Regions from separate parts of the Homo sapiens genome. Here region 2 is linked to region 1. Evidence: fine-mapped expression QTL. Tissue or cell type: whole blood. Region 1 holds a variant in brackets; the other region holds the start of a gene. All regions are shown on one strand. Distances are between the middles of the regions.

What was found. PIP is the estimated chance that this variant, and not a neighbour inherited with it, causes the effect.
Region 2: IER5L starts here. The variant in region 1 is fine-mapped to the expression of IER5L in whole blood (TOPMed, PIP 0.92).

The regions. Positions count from the first base shown.
Region 1 is chr9:129,275,344-129,283,443 of GRCh38, forward strand. It overlaps LINC02975 (long intergenic non-protein coding RNA 2975), which reads left to right and starts at 7,073. Exons shown (of 3, transcript NR_121587.1): 1 at 7,073-7,349; 2 at 7,587-7,715. RefSeq lists enhancers at 1,688-2,596, 2,597-3,505. The variant C/T (reference allele first, on the strand shown) is at 3,817.
Region 2 is chr9:129,173,210-129,181,299 of GRCh38, forward strand. IER5L (immediate early response 5 like) reads right to left here and starts at 5,052. Exons shown (of 1, transcript NM_203434.3): 1 at 2,343-5,052. The coding sequence starts at 4,843. The coding sequence ends at 3,629. RefSeq lists silencers at 1,463-1,512, 2,144-2,243, 2,817-2,866, 3,207-3,356, 4,307-4,646 and 1 more and enhancers at 1,896-2,617, 2,547-2,606, 4,981-5,275, 5,013-5,936, 5,937-6,860.

The sequences.
Region 1 (8,100 bases):
GTCACTCAGGCTGGAGTGCAGGGGCACAATCACAGCACACTGCCACCTTGACTTCCTGGGCTCAAGCAAACCTCCCACCTCAGCCTCCTAAGCAGCTGGGACCACAGGCACATGCCACCATGCCCAGCTAATTTTTGTATTTTTTGTAAGGACGAGGTCTCACTATGTTGCCCAGGCTGGTCTCAAACTCCTGAGCTCAAGTGATCCTCTAGTCTCGGCCTCCCAAAGTGCTGAGATTACAGGTGGGAGCCCCTACATCTGTTCTGAAATCTTCTTCGCCCTTCCCCCCACCCCCTTGTCAGCCCCTACGTCAACAGCCACGTCCATGATACACCCTGGGTCCTGACTTGGTCAGTAACACCCTCCCATCTGCCATTTCCGCCTGAAGCATCCCATCTTGGAGCACTGCCTCTTGTCTTTCCACACATTCCCTCTGCAACCTTAACTCTGATCTTTCTTTGCCTCTTGCCATCTGCCCCCAGGGCACATTCCTTTTCCTTCACCTCCCGTGTCCTCTGCTTCCTTGGGTTCCAGGCTCATTGTCTGCTGCAGACGCCCTCAGTCACCCTGCCCTCCCCCTCCTCCATCCACCTGGCAGAACCCCTGTCCCGGTTGAGTTCTGGGTGCTGCTCAGTGTGCTCTGACATCCAAGCAGCGGAGCCCTGGACAAAGCCACCTGATGGCACAAACAGCTTTATATCTCATGACCTTGACCTCCAACAAACATTTGTGCTGTCCAGCAATCCTCTGTGTTCCTCGGTCAGCTTGCAGCCCCCGTCTCCCAGACCACAACTTCTCTCTCTCCCCAAACCTCCAATACCCCACCCTCCCTCAGCCCTCATTCTCACTGTCGGATGATAGGTTGCTTTTTTTTTTTTTTGAGGCAGGATCTTGCTATGTTGCTGAGGCTGGAGTACAGTGGTGTGATCACGATTCACTGCAGCCTCAAACTTCTGGGCTAAAGTGATCCTCCCTCCTCATCCTTCTTGAGTAGCTGGGGCTACAGGTACACATCACCACGCCTGGCTAGCTTTTTTTTCTTTTTCTTTTTTGTAGAGACAGGGTCTCACTATGTTGCACAGGCTGGCCTCAAACTCCTGAGCTCAAGACATCCTCCTGCCTTGGCCTCCCAGAATGTTGGGATTACAGGCATGAGCTTCATTGAAAACGCAGAGGCAATCAGAGGCATTCCTGGCCCTGCACTCACCAGCCTCCCTGGGTGTCCCCCTGGGCAGCTGCCCCTCCTTTCATGCCCATCAGCTGTCCCTCCTCTCATGCCCGTCAGGTCCTTCCCTGCCCGGGCCCCGTGCACCTCGCTTCCTCTCCACCTTCCCCTGGCTTCCCTTCACATGGCCCCATCTCTCCTGCGTCACCAGCTGTTTCCTCTCCTGGGTCAGCCCCATCAGCATGCCACAAACATGCAGGAATGCCCCCAGATTGTAAGAAGCCACCCTCTGACCCCACAATCCCCTTTAGCTTCCGCCGTGCTTATCCGATCCCCTTCCAGCATATTCCCTTGGAAGGGTGGTCTCTGTGCTGTCTCTCCGCTCCTCCCCCGGCCCCCATCATCCCCCAGGCCCACCAAAGTTGGGCTCCCAGCCCTGCCATTCCACCCAAACAGCTCTTGCCAAGGTCAGCATTGACCATCACAGTCCTCCACCTGCCAGCAGCCTCAGACATGGCCGCTCACTCCTTCTGTCTGTCAACACACCCTTCTCCTGGCCCCAGGACATGGCTTTGCCTCCCACTTTGCCTCCCTGCCTCTCATTTGCTCCTCCTGTCCTGTGTAAACTGCCTGCCCGCCCTCTTACTGGGAGAGCTCTTCCATCCCAGGCGCTGGGTCCCAGGTTCCTCCCCGAAGTCCGGCCCCTCCCCTGACCTCTAGGCCTGCACTCCCAAAGGACGGGTTCCTCGATCCTCAAACTTAATGTTTCCCAAACCCCATCTCCTCCACTGATAAGCTTGAAACCTGCTCCTCCCACAGCAAATGGAAATTGCGTGCTCTGCTTCCTCAGGTCAAAGCTCTTGGAGCAGCCCTTGACCCCCACCTCTCCATTACATCCACGTGATGGGTTGCCTTTTTTTTTTTTTTTTGAGACAGGGTTTCACTCTGTCACCCAGGCTGGGGTACAGTGGCACAATCATAGCTAGACCAGCGATCGTCTGAGCTCTCACTTTAAAACACACTTGAGGCCCGGTATGGTGGCTCAAGCCTGTAATCCTAACCCCTTGGGAGGCCAAGGAAGGTGGATCATCTGAGGTCAGTTCGAGACCAGTCTGGCCAGTATGGTGAAACTCTGTCTCTACTAGGCCAGGCGCGGTGGCTCATGCCTGTAATCCCAGCACTTTGGGAGGCCGAGGCGGGCAGATTATGAGGTCAGGAGATTGACACCATCCTGACTAACACAGTGAAACCCCATCTCTACTAAAAATACAAAAAATTAGCCGGGCATGGTGGCAGGTGCCTGTAGTCCCAGCTACTGGGGAAGCTGAGGCAGGAGAATGGCGTGAACTGGGGAGGCAGAGCTTGCGGTGAGCTGAGATCGCGCCACTGCACTCCAGCCTGGGCGACAGAGTGAGACTCCGTCTCAAAGAAAAAAAAAAACAAACCCTGTCTCTCCTAAAAATACAAAAATTAGCTGGGTGTGGAGGTGCATGCTTGTAATTCCAACTACTCGGGAGGCTGAGGCAGGAGAATCGCTTGAACCTGGGAGGCGGAGGTTGCAGTGAGTGGAGATCGCCGTCAGTGCACTCCAGCCTGGGTGACAGAGCGAGACTCCGAGACTCCGTCTCAGAAAAAAAACAAAATGAAACAAAAACCTCACACATTTGGCCCCCGGCCCCTTTCCAGGGTGCCTGGGACCCAGGGCTGGGCCATCCCCGCTCCCCCATAAGAATGCCGCAGTTCCCCACAGTCTCCCAGCTCCACCCTTCTCCACACAGAAGCTAAAAGACCCTTTTAAAATGCAAGTCAAATCCCATCTCTTGCCGGCTCAGAACCCCCCAGGGGCTTGCGGAGAGGAAGATGCAAAGTCCTAGCTGCTGCCCACCAGGCCTGACTGACCTACGTGGCTGACCCCATCACAGGCCCCAGGAAGGCAGGGCTGTGTCTGTCTGGTCGTGGGTGTCTCGGCACCCAGGCCATGCATCGGTACATATTTGATGGATGAATAAGTGACGGATGGGTGACTGCGGCTTCCCTGGGAGGCTCCGCCCTGCCTTGGAACCCAGCCCAGCCCAGCCTCCGCGCTTCCCTGCCTGCCTGGGCCTGCACCTGGCCAACCCCCGCAACAACCTCCACCAGGTGTGCAGCCTTGAAAACTGTTGGTTCTGGTTGCCAACTCTCCTAGCAGAGAGGGGTGCTCCAGGGACCAAGGGTCTGTGGTACCTGAGCAAATCTCTTCTAGCTGCCCTGACCACCCTCCTGTGGGTCCCTCTCCTCCATTTCCCCCACCTGGTGGGTGGGGCTGAGGGAGCAGAGACCACGCCCCCAATCCAGCCACACTCTTCTTCCAGCCAACCAAGCACCAGAAAACCAAGATTTGCACAAAGAGCTGGTGGCCTGGGAGCAGGTCCCTCAGGCTCCTCACATCTGCCCTGCAGAAGGGGCAGACATTGTCTCATTCTGGGAGTCACTCATGGTACCGAGATCAAACCCCCAGGTAACCCCCACACAGCCTTGCACAAGCCTTGCTTCTCACTTTGGACATCTACATTGCACCACTTGGGGTCGTCATTTGTAGCCAGCGAGGTGACCTGGGTGGGGGCAGAGCTGGATCTAGAACCCCCCCCCCGGTCCCTCCCCTGGGCAAGGGC[C/T]CCACATTTCCTTTTCCAGTGATGCTCCCATGCCCAGAATCTTTCTGGACTCCAGCTGCAGAATGGCCATTCATCTCGGGTTTCAATTTCCCACCTGCCCCTTTGACCTCCCCAGGCGGGGAGCGGGGGCCTTGGCTGGGCTTGTCGCTGGGGCTTGGGGGCAACTCGCCCAGTGAGAACCTGCTACGTGCCAGGTGCGCCTCTCACCCAGTCCTCACAGCAGCCCTGCATCTTCACAAATGAGAAAACAGGCCGGGCGCGGTGGCTCATGCCTGTAATCCCAGCACTTTGGGAGGCCAAGGTGGGTGGATCACCTGAGGTCAGGAGTTCCAGACCAGCCTGGCCAACATAGTGAAACCCCGTCTCTACTAAAAATACAAAAATTAGCCGGGTGTGATGGCGGGCGCCTGTAATCCCAGCTACTCAGGAGGCTGAGGCAGGAGAATCACTTGAACCCGGGAGGCAGAGGTTGCAGTGAGCCGAGATCGTGCCACTGCACTCCAGCCTGGGCGACAAAGGGAGACTCTGTGTTAAAAAATAAATAAATAAAAGAAAAGAAAACAAAGAAGAAAGGTCCCTGGTTAGGGCCACGGGGGGATGCAGCAGGGCCCATGGCCTGGGAGGGGGTGGTGGCTGGGCGGTGCCAGGATGGAGAGATACATCTGTCTTATAAGAGTGGGCAGACAGGCCCTTGTTCCAGGAGCTGAAATGAAACAGAACTGTGTATATATCTTCTCATCTATAGACTAAATTAAACTAACTCATAGAAATAGTCTGTTTTAAGTTTCTTTACTTAAAAGTATCTTACACGTTTAACACCTGCCAATACACGTATGTACGTGATATTCAGTAATGATCATTGCAAACTGGGCACGGTGGCTCATGCCTGTAATCCCGACACTTTGGGAGGCTGAGATGGGAGGATCACTTGAACCCAGGAGGTTGAGGCTGCAGTGAGCTGTGATGGTGCCACTGCCCTCCAGCTTGGGTGACAGAGCAAGATCCTGTCTGTAAATAATAATAATAATAGTAATAACTGCGACCACCTATACAAATTTCATCTATACATCCCAGGTATTGTGCACCCTCCATACAAATGTATGAAAATTCACAGAAAGCCTGTGCTTGGTCAGTGCTATCATCAGGCCTATTTGGCAGATGCAGAAACAGGCTCACAGAAGGGAAGTCACTTGCTGAAAGCCACATGGCTGGCACGGGGTGGCACTGAGACTTGCACCCAGATCTGGGCAGCATTAAAACCCCTGCCCCACCCGTGGTCCTCTCCTGTCTCCGTGTTAGCGTGGAGCCCTGAGATGTTTTAGGAGCCGGCTTTCCGATTTCCATCTGTGTTTGTGGTGATTGCCCTGATCTTTCAGGCATTCTGCCCTAGAAAGCCCCTTGGGGAGGGGGCTTCCTGTTTCACCTGCTTGGACGTGGCTTTGGAGCTAAGACCGAGAGGAGTCAAGGTGGGATTCCTCGGATGCCCTGAGGGAGTGCGATGGGATGCCTGGGGGCTGCTCCTCCAGCCTCAGACACTCCTGCCCACAGCCCCTGGCCAGGCCCTGCCTGAGCCACTGCTCTAGGCTGCAAAGGGCTGGCTCTCATTTCCTAATTCATCCTGCCAGCTGGAGCCAAGGTGGACTCTCCCCATAGACTGGGATGAGTGCCCTGGCCCAGCTGGACCTGGTGGTGGCTATGAGCCCCCTTGTGTCACCTTTTCCCTACCCAGGGCTCATCACAAGCTGCAGGGGGATGCTCTTGGGTCTCAGGGAGAGTGGCCTGAGTCCCCCGGGGCTTCTGAGTGCATCCAGGCTGCTCTGCTGACCCTGGAAGGCAACCAGGGAAGCTGTGAGGTCAGGGTAAGGGATGGGCCTCAAGAGCGGGTCATGGCCCAGCTGGGGCCTGTGTGGACAGAGGCCTCACTGTCTCCACTGCATGCAGGGAGTCTTGAGGCCAAGTGACACATTTGCCACCTGTGACATACGCCACCAGCCCGTGTGTCTGTGCCCCAGATACAGCCAGCCAGTGCAGAGTGAGGCCTGCCAGGGCCCTGTGTTGTGGGGATGTGACAGAGCTGCCAGTCCTGGTGCAGGTGAGACGTCACCGCCATCCCAGCTGGTCTCCACCTGGAGGACAATTTGGGGACCTCCTGGCACCCTCATGCGTTCCCTCCCCCTTGTTCTGCGTGACTGCCTGTTTTAATTCACATGTCCCTTTCTAAGACTTACAACTGCATTTCTCATAAAGGAAATTATTGGCACAGGGGATAATTGTGATCCAACTCTCTGGCTTCACTTAGAAATCGAGAGGGTGGTCAGTGGGGTCCCACTTACGAGAAGTTCCGGATGGCAGAACAGTACTACAGACATCATGGTCCTCAGGAGGATGCTGTCCTGCCCCAGAGAGGCCGCCGAGGGCTGGCGGAGGGGACCTGGAAGGCAGGTGGGGTTGACTGAGATGTGCCAGGTCGGGAGGGAATCCCAGGGCGGGGACCCTAGAGAAAGCGTGGCACATCTGTGGAGAGCGGACGGGCCACGCTGGGAGTGGAGGGCTGAGGGCTATGTCAGCCCGCTCCAGCAGGAGGACATGAGCCAGGCCTGTCCAGAGGGCTTCTGCAACCTCTTCTGGAAAAAGGACCAGGGAGGTACCTGTTTCATGCCCAGGAGGTCATGATAGTGCCTATCAGCGTTAAATGCCATCTGGTCCTTGCCTCGCAAGGAGCCCTGTCCCCTGGTTCACTGGCTTAGGGGTGCCCCTCAGGTCAGTGTTTCCCCAGTGTGGGGTGGGCACCCTCGGTGACCTAGGAGACAGTGACGTCAGGGATCACACAGCCTCATACCACACAAAGGTGATTCCCTTCTCTGTCTCAGCCCTCTGGTCCCCTGGAGGGGAAGCTTGCAACTCCCCAACGCTTTTCTATCAAAATGCCATCGGCAGGCAACAATAGCCAGCTAGAATTTCCTAACATTGCTTATTTTAATTGTAATTTATTTTTACTTTTACCTTCTATTTATGGCCCATGATCTTAGTTTTTTTTCCACCTAACAGTAGTCACATAAAGTTCCCTTATGGATGCATTTACCTAAGTAATAGCAGTGAATGCTTTTAAAGAAAAATAGAGAGCAAATAACAGAATAAGGTGCCACTGGAAGGGCCGGGTCAAGAGGAGGGGGTGGACGGACCTGTGGGTGGCACTGGCTTTTCGTAACTCAGGAATCAGGAAGTGTAGTTGACACTTGTTTTGTTATGTTTGCTCCAATGGAAAAGGAAGCTGTGGGTGGAGACACATCTGACGGGAGGGATTTGGATCCTGCCAGCTCGTCCCTGCAACCCCCTACTCCGGTCCCCTCAAACCTGTCCGTGGCTGGCAGCCCTGTGATACCTCGCCACATTCTGCAACAGAATCCGAGATAGAGGTAGAAGTGGGGGAGTACGTCGTGGCTGTCAGGGCAGCTTTCTGTAAAATGCTGCCTGGAGGAGCATGTGATTCCAGACCCTCCTCTCTGCAACGAAAGTGAGGTTGACACCTGCAGGTATGATTGTAACACGACTTTTAGTTCAGGTGAGCGCAGCCTTCCTCTCCTGGAGCTCTGGCTCATCCAGCCCTGAGCTCCCCAGTCCAAGGCTCTCCGGGTACCTTGGGCAGCCTCCCTAGCAGGGCGGTGGGATCGGACCAGCTGTTCCCGGCTGCTGGTCCGTTCCAAGCTGCAAGGGCCTAGGTGCGGAGCAATGACCGGCAGGCCGAGCTCCCTCCCTCCCTCTCGTTGCAGGCCTGGGGCCTCCTGGCCCACTGAGCAGAACACACAGAAGCTGGGCCCACCCCTGCCCTCCCCACAAAGGGTCACGGGAGCCACCGCCTGACTTTGAAGCCCACTGACTTGCGGCTGACAAGAGAAAAGGTATTTGGAATTAAGTGAAGGGCGGGAGGCAGGGGCGGGCTAGGCCCTGGGGTCACATAGCTGCAGGCACCTTGACTGCAGCTGCCGTTGGCCCCAGTCCCTTACTTTCTAGGGTTCTGCAGTGGGCCAGAGAAGGGACTATTATTATTATTTCATAACATTTCATCCTGGCTTATTTCTAGCCCCTCAAACGGTGTCCGTACAGGGTTGAACTGCCAAGGGCTCCCAGACCCCTGCTGCCAAGGGGCGGCTGGCTTGTGGTGGCTCTGGGGAGGCAGTGGTGCCCGTCACTGGCACTGGGGAATCTTGTCTGACTTCCCTTTTCCTCCATCTCCTCCCCAGGGCCCGGCTTTTCCTGTGCCCTTCATTTTCCTCCCCCTGTTCT
Region 2 (8,090 bases), 100 kb before region 1:
TCCCCTACCTCCCTAAGCAGCACCCCTAAGTCCTGTCTGGGGGCTCCACTGGTCTTTTTACTGGAGGGAGAGAGGCTTGTCTGTGGAGCTGAAATGGACTCCTGGTTTGCCTGCCCGCCTGACCCCATCCCCCTTTCAGACGACCCCCATGGCCAGGCAACCCCATCCACCCGCCTCCCGGACCCAGCCTCTCACTTGTGCTATGCACGGGAACATCGGTCTCTCTGGATGTTCTAGGCTGGTATGTTTCCTGCTGCGCCAGTGGCCCCAGGGATTGTGAGTGGGGTGAAGATGCAGCTTAGGAGCAAGTGTTGGAGACAGTGTGTGGCTGGGTGTGGCCCTCAGTGTGGGGTGTAGTGTAGAATCAAGGCTGTGCAGCCTGTTACAGTTTTGTGTGGAATGTCTTGGTGAGACGGGTAGATTGCCAGTGGGTTGCGTTTTGGGTCAAGGGGAATTATACTCAGGGCACTAACCCTTTGTGGGGCTGCCCAGGTCCTTGGGCCCCGAGAAGATAAGGGAAGGGGAAGGGCACCTCTCTTTAGGGTGCTCCCAGAGCGCCCCATCCCATCCCTTGGCATTGCTAGATTCCAGTGTGCGGCTTAGGCTCAGATCACCCGGCAGAGGGGAGGGGAGCCCTCGTCTGGGGTCCTGCTGAGTTCAGAGATCTTATTTCGCACCCCACCATCCACTCTCCTTTACCACAGGGATCCCTGGGGCGGGTGGGGAATTCCCAAGCCCTTTGGCCGGTCCCTTCCAGTGCCCAGCTCCCAACAAAGGGGGCCGACCACGTGCCCCTCCTCGACGTGGGCCTGGAGTGGGGACGCACGCGGCCCCGGGACCCAGCTCAGGCAAGGGCGAGATGCAGACTCCACGCAGCTCCCCGGGTGGACGCGAAGCGGCCCCCGACAGCCCCGCCGCCTCCGCCGAGCCTCGCCCACTCTCAGCCCCAGCCACTGCAGCGCGCCCGAAGCGGCGCTAGGGGGAGCTCTGGCAACTGGCTTCGTGGATTGAAGCAAAACCGTGCAGCCAACCGCGATTTCCTTGGACTTGCAGGGGAAAATGGGGAGGGAGGAAACGCACTGTTCCCCCTCCTCGGCAGCTCCAGACTCTTCCCGTGGGAGGCCGATGAAGCAGCCCTGGGGGTGAAGGTGCCTTTCCTCCCCGCGACTCACGCCCCCAGAGCCTCCTTTTTCCCCACCCCCAACGCGGACCTCCGCGGACCCCCGCATTCTGGAGAGTGTCCCCGAGAACTTCGCCTCGCGTGACACCGGGATCCAGAGCGGAGCAGTCCCCGGGGACAGGCTTGCGTCCGCCTCTCAGAGTCTGGCTTGGGGGCCTCTTGGCGGCAGCCCCTCCTGTCGCCGCGGGAGGCGCGAAGGCTGGGGTGGGGGGCGCGAGCCGTCCTGCGGGGTGGCTGCGAGGCTCGCACCGGCGAGGGCAGTGTGGGGGCGAGGGAGCCAGCGAGAGCGAGGAGCTGTGGGGAGTCGGCAGCAAACAGCCAGCAGGCTGCCACTTTGCTTTCTTTTTCTCGTTCTTTCTTTCCTAACCCCTCTTTGCAAAGCTGGAACTATCCCGCGCGCCCCTGGGCCCAAGCCGCGGCTCCAGATGTGGATTTGTTTCCAGTGGGGAGAACGCGAGCTTCCCCCGGGCCTTGGCACATTCTCCCACTCTGAGGTCATTCCGTAGGTGGTCAGAGGGGAGCGCGCGCCGGGAGCCTTCCTCCCTCCATCCACTGGGGAGGGAAGAGCGGCGGGTGGGAGGGAAGGAGAGGGAGAGGGGAGGGGCGCGAGGAGGGAGGGAGACGCCGCCAGCACACCACCAAGTGGCACCGAGCAGTGATAACAAACTCAACTTAAAAAAAAAAAAGGGAAAAAGAAAAGGAAAAAACTTCCCCAAGTTGCAGCCCGAGACATGCGGACGTGCGGGGCAGAGGCGCGGGGCAGGGAGTGCGGGTGGCCCTGAAACCCCCGGCGTCCCCCGGCTGCTTTCCCCGGCCACAGAGAGCTCAGACTCGAGGCCGACCAGGCCCTGCGCCTGTGCCTGGGCAGGAAATGTGCTGGAGGCTGGCTCCGCTTCCCGCTGGAGACCCCGGGGCGGCCAGTTCCCGTGGGGGACAGGACCCCCCTGGAGCGGGGGCGGCCGAGAGACGCGCAGCACCCGCTTCATCCCCAGCCACCAACATCACCCCCCATTCTCCCACCGCCGACCTTGCGGATGTGGGTAGATCCCGCCCGCCCAGGCCGAAGAGAACTGGGGTTTACATGGGGGTGGGCGGGGTCTCTCCCCACACCTCTCTATCCTCTCTGACGCCCCCAGACATCTGAAAACAAGGCACCACCATCTTCTGTAATCGACTTTTTATTAAGATTATAAATTTAAACAATCTGAACAGTTTTACCCGGTGATATACAATTCAGTATGCACAAAAATACAGGGTAATGAGGGAAAAGGGCCGAGAAAGGAAGGATTGGCAACTCGTTTTGGAGTCCACACGGTGCTGATGGCAGAGAACCAGAGGGGCTGCAGACGAACCCCACCTTTTTACAACAAAAGGCTTTTAAATTAAACAAATCTATCGAGCTGAAGACACAGGACGGGGTTCTCACAGGCTCGAACAATGCTGGTTTCATGAAATGCAACCGAAGGCTGAACCAAGGCAGTGCAACTTAGAAGCACACACACAAACACCACAGCTGACCAGGAACTTAGTGCAAAGTCTCCAACGCAGTCGGCGGTCCCGGCCCCTCCCTCCCCCGGGGCCGCCGGGGATCCAGGTGAAGGAATTGACTTCCTTTTTTGTTTAGTGAGGACCGCAGTGCTAGGCATGATGGGAAATGTAGTCCGCCGTGCCCGCCCCCCACCCCTTACCCAGTGTCCGAGAGTGTCGGGGTGTCAGGCGCCACCCCCGAGTCCGGGAGACGGGTGGAGGAGGGGAGGAGAACGGAGCCAGAGGGGCGGGGAGAAGAGGGGTTCAAGACACCCGCCCCGGGAAGAAAAGAAAAAAAAAGTTGAAGTGTTTTCATTTCTGCCTTCTCATTTTGAGAACTTTGGAGTCCGCCCCCAGAGAGGAAATGTGACCCAAACGTCCCTTTCGGAGATAGAGTTTGCCTTTGTTTTTGCTCAGAATTTCACAAGACCCATTCCTCACCCCACAGAGGGACTCGGGAGAGCGGAACGTCGGGCTTCCCGGGTCTGACAACTGATTGGAATCGGCTTCCCAGGTCCGGCGCCCTCCTGAGCTGCGCCCCCGGCGCGCCCCGGCGGCCAGGGCGCCCTGCCTCGCCCCCGGCTGCCCGGCACCTCCTCCGGGCAGCAGCCCTCCCTCACGTGGTAGGCTCCTCGCTAAACACCACTGCAATCACTACAATAAAAAGAAAAAAAGGAGTAGGAGAAACACAAAGCATACTTAAATAGGCGCTTTTTCTCTCTGCAAAAATAAAGTCCAAGATTTTAGATTTCTTTTTTTTTTATTTTACAATTTATAAAACATCAGCCGCCTGCCCCCGCTCGCCCCCAGCTCAGCCCCGAGTGGCCCGGCGCCCGCTCGTTCCCTCCTCTCGCCCCTTTGCCGAGTCTTTGTCTGGCCCCAGCCCCGCGGGGCCCCGGGTCCCTGTGCCCTCGGGGGTCCCTAGAAGGCGACAATGGCTCGAGTCCAGGCGCCGAGGCTGGCGAGCGCCTGCTTGGCGCACAGCTGCCCGTTGAGCGGCGGCGGCTGCTCCGAGGAGTCCGGCTGTCGGCTCACCAGCCCCGAGAAGCCGGAGCCAAAGATGGAGATCAAGTTTGAGATGTTGGACGCGTCCGGGGACGAGTCCGGGCAGAAGTCCTCGAAGCGGGCGCGCTTGCAGGGGGCGAACGGGGCGCCCCCGGGGGGCTCGGCCCCCAGCCCGCCCGCATCCTCCTCGTCGTCTTCCTCCTCCTCCTGGCCAGGGTAATACTTGCGCTTGCAGCCGGCGGCGGACGCCAGGCCCGGTCCCGGAGCGCCCTGGCCACAGCAGGGGCAGTGGGCGGAGGCGCAGCAGTCCTGGTGCAAGTAGCCGTTCTCCACCGTGGTCACCACGTGAGTGTCTAGGTCCAGCACGGTGGTCTGGCTGCTGCAGTGCAAGCCGAAGTCCGAAGGGGTAGGGTATGCGCCCCGGTAGAAGCCGGGGGAGGAGGCGGGGGCCGGGGAGGCGGGCGGAGAAGCGGCGGCGGCCGGAGGGGCGGCCCCTGGGGGCGCGGAGCAGGCGGCCGGGGCGCGAGGGTCCCGCGGGCAGAGCGCAGCGGGCGCGGGCGGCGGCAGCGGCAGCGGCAGCGGCGCAGGACCCGGCTGCAGAGGCTCCAAGGGCTGCCCGCGGTGGGGCGCGCCGTGCGGCGGCTGGAGCGCGGCGCACCCGGGCAGCTCCGAGAGCGCCCCCGCGCCGCCCGCGGGCGCTCCGGCCGCCGCCGCCGCCGCGCAGCCCCTGGGCGCCGGGTGCTGGTGCTGGTGCAGCTGCTGCTGGAGGTGCAGCTGGTGGAGCTGGTGGAGCTGGTGCAGCTGGTGCCGGGCGGCCGGCTCGCGCGCCTCCGCGTCCCCGCCGCCGCCAAGTTGGAGCGGGCCGAAGTCGGCCGCGCTGGCCGGCATGCCCGGCGCCGCGTACGCTAGGTGCTGGTGCTGGTGGTGGGGCGGCTGCTGCTGTTGCTGCTGCTGCTGGCGCCGGTAGAGCTCGGCGTAGCGCTCGCTCAGGTAGAGCTGGCGCGCGTTGCGGAGCACGTAGGACACCAGGAGGTTCTTGTGCAGCTTGATGCCGCCGCGCTGGGTTCGGGAGCTGTGGATCTTGCGCAGGGAGATGCTGATCAGGCTCTGGGCGTCCAGGGCGCACTCCATGCTCCCGCGGAGACGGCGGCGGAGCAGCCGCCGCCGCTGCTGCTGTTAACGCTTCTGCTGTTTCTGCCTCCAGCCGGCCGCCGGGGCGCGCCGGGCAGGGGTAACGGAGTCCGGGTCAGAGGTTCGGCTGCGCTCCGAAAGGAGCCGCCACCATGCGCCGCGCGCCACCCGCGGGCTCGCGCTCCCCAGACGGCGCCAAAGCAATGAGTCTCGGCCGGCCCCGGCCCCAGCTATTTAGCCGGGTGCCCGGGCCCCGCCCCACATGAGAAGAGCCAATAGGAGCTCTGAGAGTCTCCTGAGTGACAGGCGCAGCCCGCCCCGGGGCTACTCGGCTGGCCAATCAGACCAAGGCGGTTCCTTTGTGCTATTCAAATACCGAACGGACCCCGGGCCTCCAACGCCGCTGCTGCCTCGAATGTTCTCCTGGGGCTGCCGCGCCGCGCGGGACTCGGAGCCGCCGGGGCCGCAGTCTGCAGCATAGGTCGCCTGGCAGCGGCCACGTTGAAGCCCGCGGCTGCCCTCGCCTTAGGTCCCGGGAGCCGGGGGTCGGCTCACCTGAGTGCTGCGGCGACGGCTCCTCCCCTTTCCGCACGGCTGGGCCTCACCTGCGGCAGGTGCGCGCCGCTCATCGCTCCCCCAGCGGCGCGGCGCCTCCACCTGCGCACCTGTCGCCCCCCCGAGTGACCCGCGGGAGTCAAGGCCTCTCTACAGGAGGCTGGTGGAGCCGCCGGCTTGACACTGGGGAACATCAAAGGAGCGAGGTTTTGGGGGTACCCTCTACCGCAGAGAATGTAGGGCCTGACTCCTTGACTTTTTGGTCGAGGGGCCTCTGGGAATGCTTGCGGAAGGGAAGTCCTCCCCATTTGTCTGACAGGAAAAACCAAAACATCGTGAATTTTGACCTTCTCTGATGGAGAGAGTTCCGAGGCCAGGCATGACCCAGGGAGTGTGTGGACCTCGCGACCAGCTGAGGCTCAAAAGCGTCCTGGGAGCCGAAACGCTGAGTGCCCTAATCACCAGCTCTGTAACCTTTCCTTTCGTGCCTAACTAATAATAATGACAATAGGGACTATTATTATGGGCCTAATATGGGGCAGGCCCTTCCCAGCAACTCCCCAATGCCTCACTCTAACGTTTGTAGAGGAGGGGCCTGAGGCTCGGAGGAGTGGAGTGACTTGGGGAACCACACAGTTCCCAGGGGGCGGAGCTAGGAGCTGGGACAGGACCCTGCGCTCGAGACGGGAGGTGAATACCAAAGGCCCGGGGACTCACCGACTTAACTTCTGTTGACACAGCTTTCCTTCTTATCCTGAACCCTTCAGGTCCCAGCTGGGGACTGAGACAGTGGGAGAAGAGAGGGACAGGATTGCTGATTCCTGGGGGCGCTCTATCTGGACCAAGAGGCCTGAAGGGGGCTGGTTGCTGCTCCCAGGGGTTTCAAAGGTGCCTGGGGTGGGGGCTGCCCAGACAGCTCTGGAGGCTCTTGGAAATGGTCTGGAGGTTTGCCTGAGGAGGGTCCATGAGTGGATCCCTGAAGGATGAACGAGGTCTGCAGAGTCTCCCAGAGATAGGTGGACCTTGTGGGGCTGGACTCAGGGGGGAGGCCCATGACCAGACGTCCTGCTGCTTCACCGCCTCCTCAGGGGATCTTCTGAGTCTCTGCTTTTTGGGGCTTCCTTCTGAGTTCTCAGCACCTACTTCATCCCTTGGTGGGAGTGGAGAGACCCAGTAGCCCACCCTGTGGTCTCTGGGTCTTTCTTTAGTCTTAAGAATTTCCAAGATTTCTGCAAAAGTTTCTTAGCATCTACTCCATGCCAGGCGTTGAGAGTGAAGACAGAGTTAGCGGGTGTTTACTTCATTTTTCCGATGAGGAAACTCGGACACTGACAGCGTGAGACTTGCCCAAGATCACATGGCCCCAGGGCTGGTGCTGTGTCCTTCCCTTGGCCCCCTCGAACAATCTCAAACGCTTTGGGCCCCTGTGACCAATAGCACCTCTCCAGGCCTCCTCCCAGAGAAGCCAGGATTGAAATTTCAGGGGACTTCAGATAAAGGATGTCCTACCTACATTTTATTGGTGATACAGACCTACAGGCTGTGGAACTTGCTCAGGTGATAACACGTAGAAGTAAAAATACACTGCCCTTCACTTCCCTGGTGCCTGTCTTAAAGGCACACAAAGACTTTATTTATGGCCGGGCGCGGTGGCTCACGCCTGTAATCCCAGCACTTCGGGAGGCCGAGGCGGACAGATCACGAGGTCAGGAGATCAAGAGCTTCCTGGCTAACACAGTGAAACCCTGTCTCTACTAAAAATCACAAAAAATTAGCTGGGCGTGGTGGCGGGTGCTTGTAGTCCCAGCTATTTGGGAGGCTGGGACAGGAGAATGGTGTGAACCCGGGAGGCGGAGCTTGCAGTGAGCCCAGATGGCGCCACTGCACTCCAACCTGGGCAACAGAGTGAGACTCCGTCTCAAAAAAAAAAAAAAAAAAAGACTTTATTTATTTATGTTTGAAGTTCACCTTTGAGACATCACTAGCATGCAGAGGGATCTGGGAGCTCTTACCGGCTTTACAGCTGTGAGGACTCTGTATGCAACAGTGAAGTCTGGGATCCACAGTGTCTGGCACACTGCAAGCCCACAGCTCCAGAAAATATTATCAGCACTGATTTGGGGTCTTCTTTCTGTCATGGCCCAGTGTTTATTGGGGGAAACTAAGAGTTTACACACCTTGCTTGAGGTCACATACCAGCAAGGGGTGGAGTCAAGATCTGAGCCCAAACCCATCTGTTTCCAGGGTGGGAGTTCACCAGAGGTTCCTCCAAATCAGCTTCCGCTGTCAGTGGAGCCAAGGCCAGTTCTCAGGGCCCAGCTCTTGGTGAATATGATCTTGGTTTGATCGACCCCCACCGCTTTACTGCCAAGTGCTGTGGGACCAGGGCCCATAAGGAAGCAAATGTCAGTCTCAGCCTCAGCCCCTCATTCAGAGCTGTACCCCAGAACATGAATCTGGGGGCCCAGATGGGGAAACAGGGCAGGGATGGAGGTGGATTTCCACCTACAGGTTGGGGGCAGAAGGACCAGGCCCCTCACATGGGCAGCTCCTCGTGGCACCTCCTAGTCCCCCACAAGGTGAGTTTGGGGATCTTTGAAGTTCCTTTCATTCACTGGGGCCAGCTGAGAAGTGGTCAGCCTCTTCTGGGTGGCCCCATCCTCTGGGTCTGTTGGGGGCCCACACTCTGTCT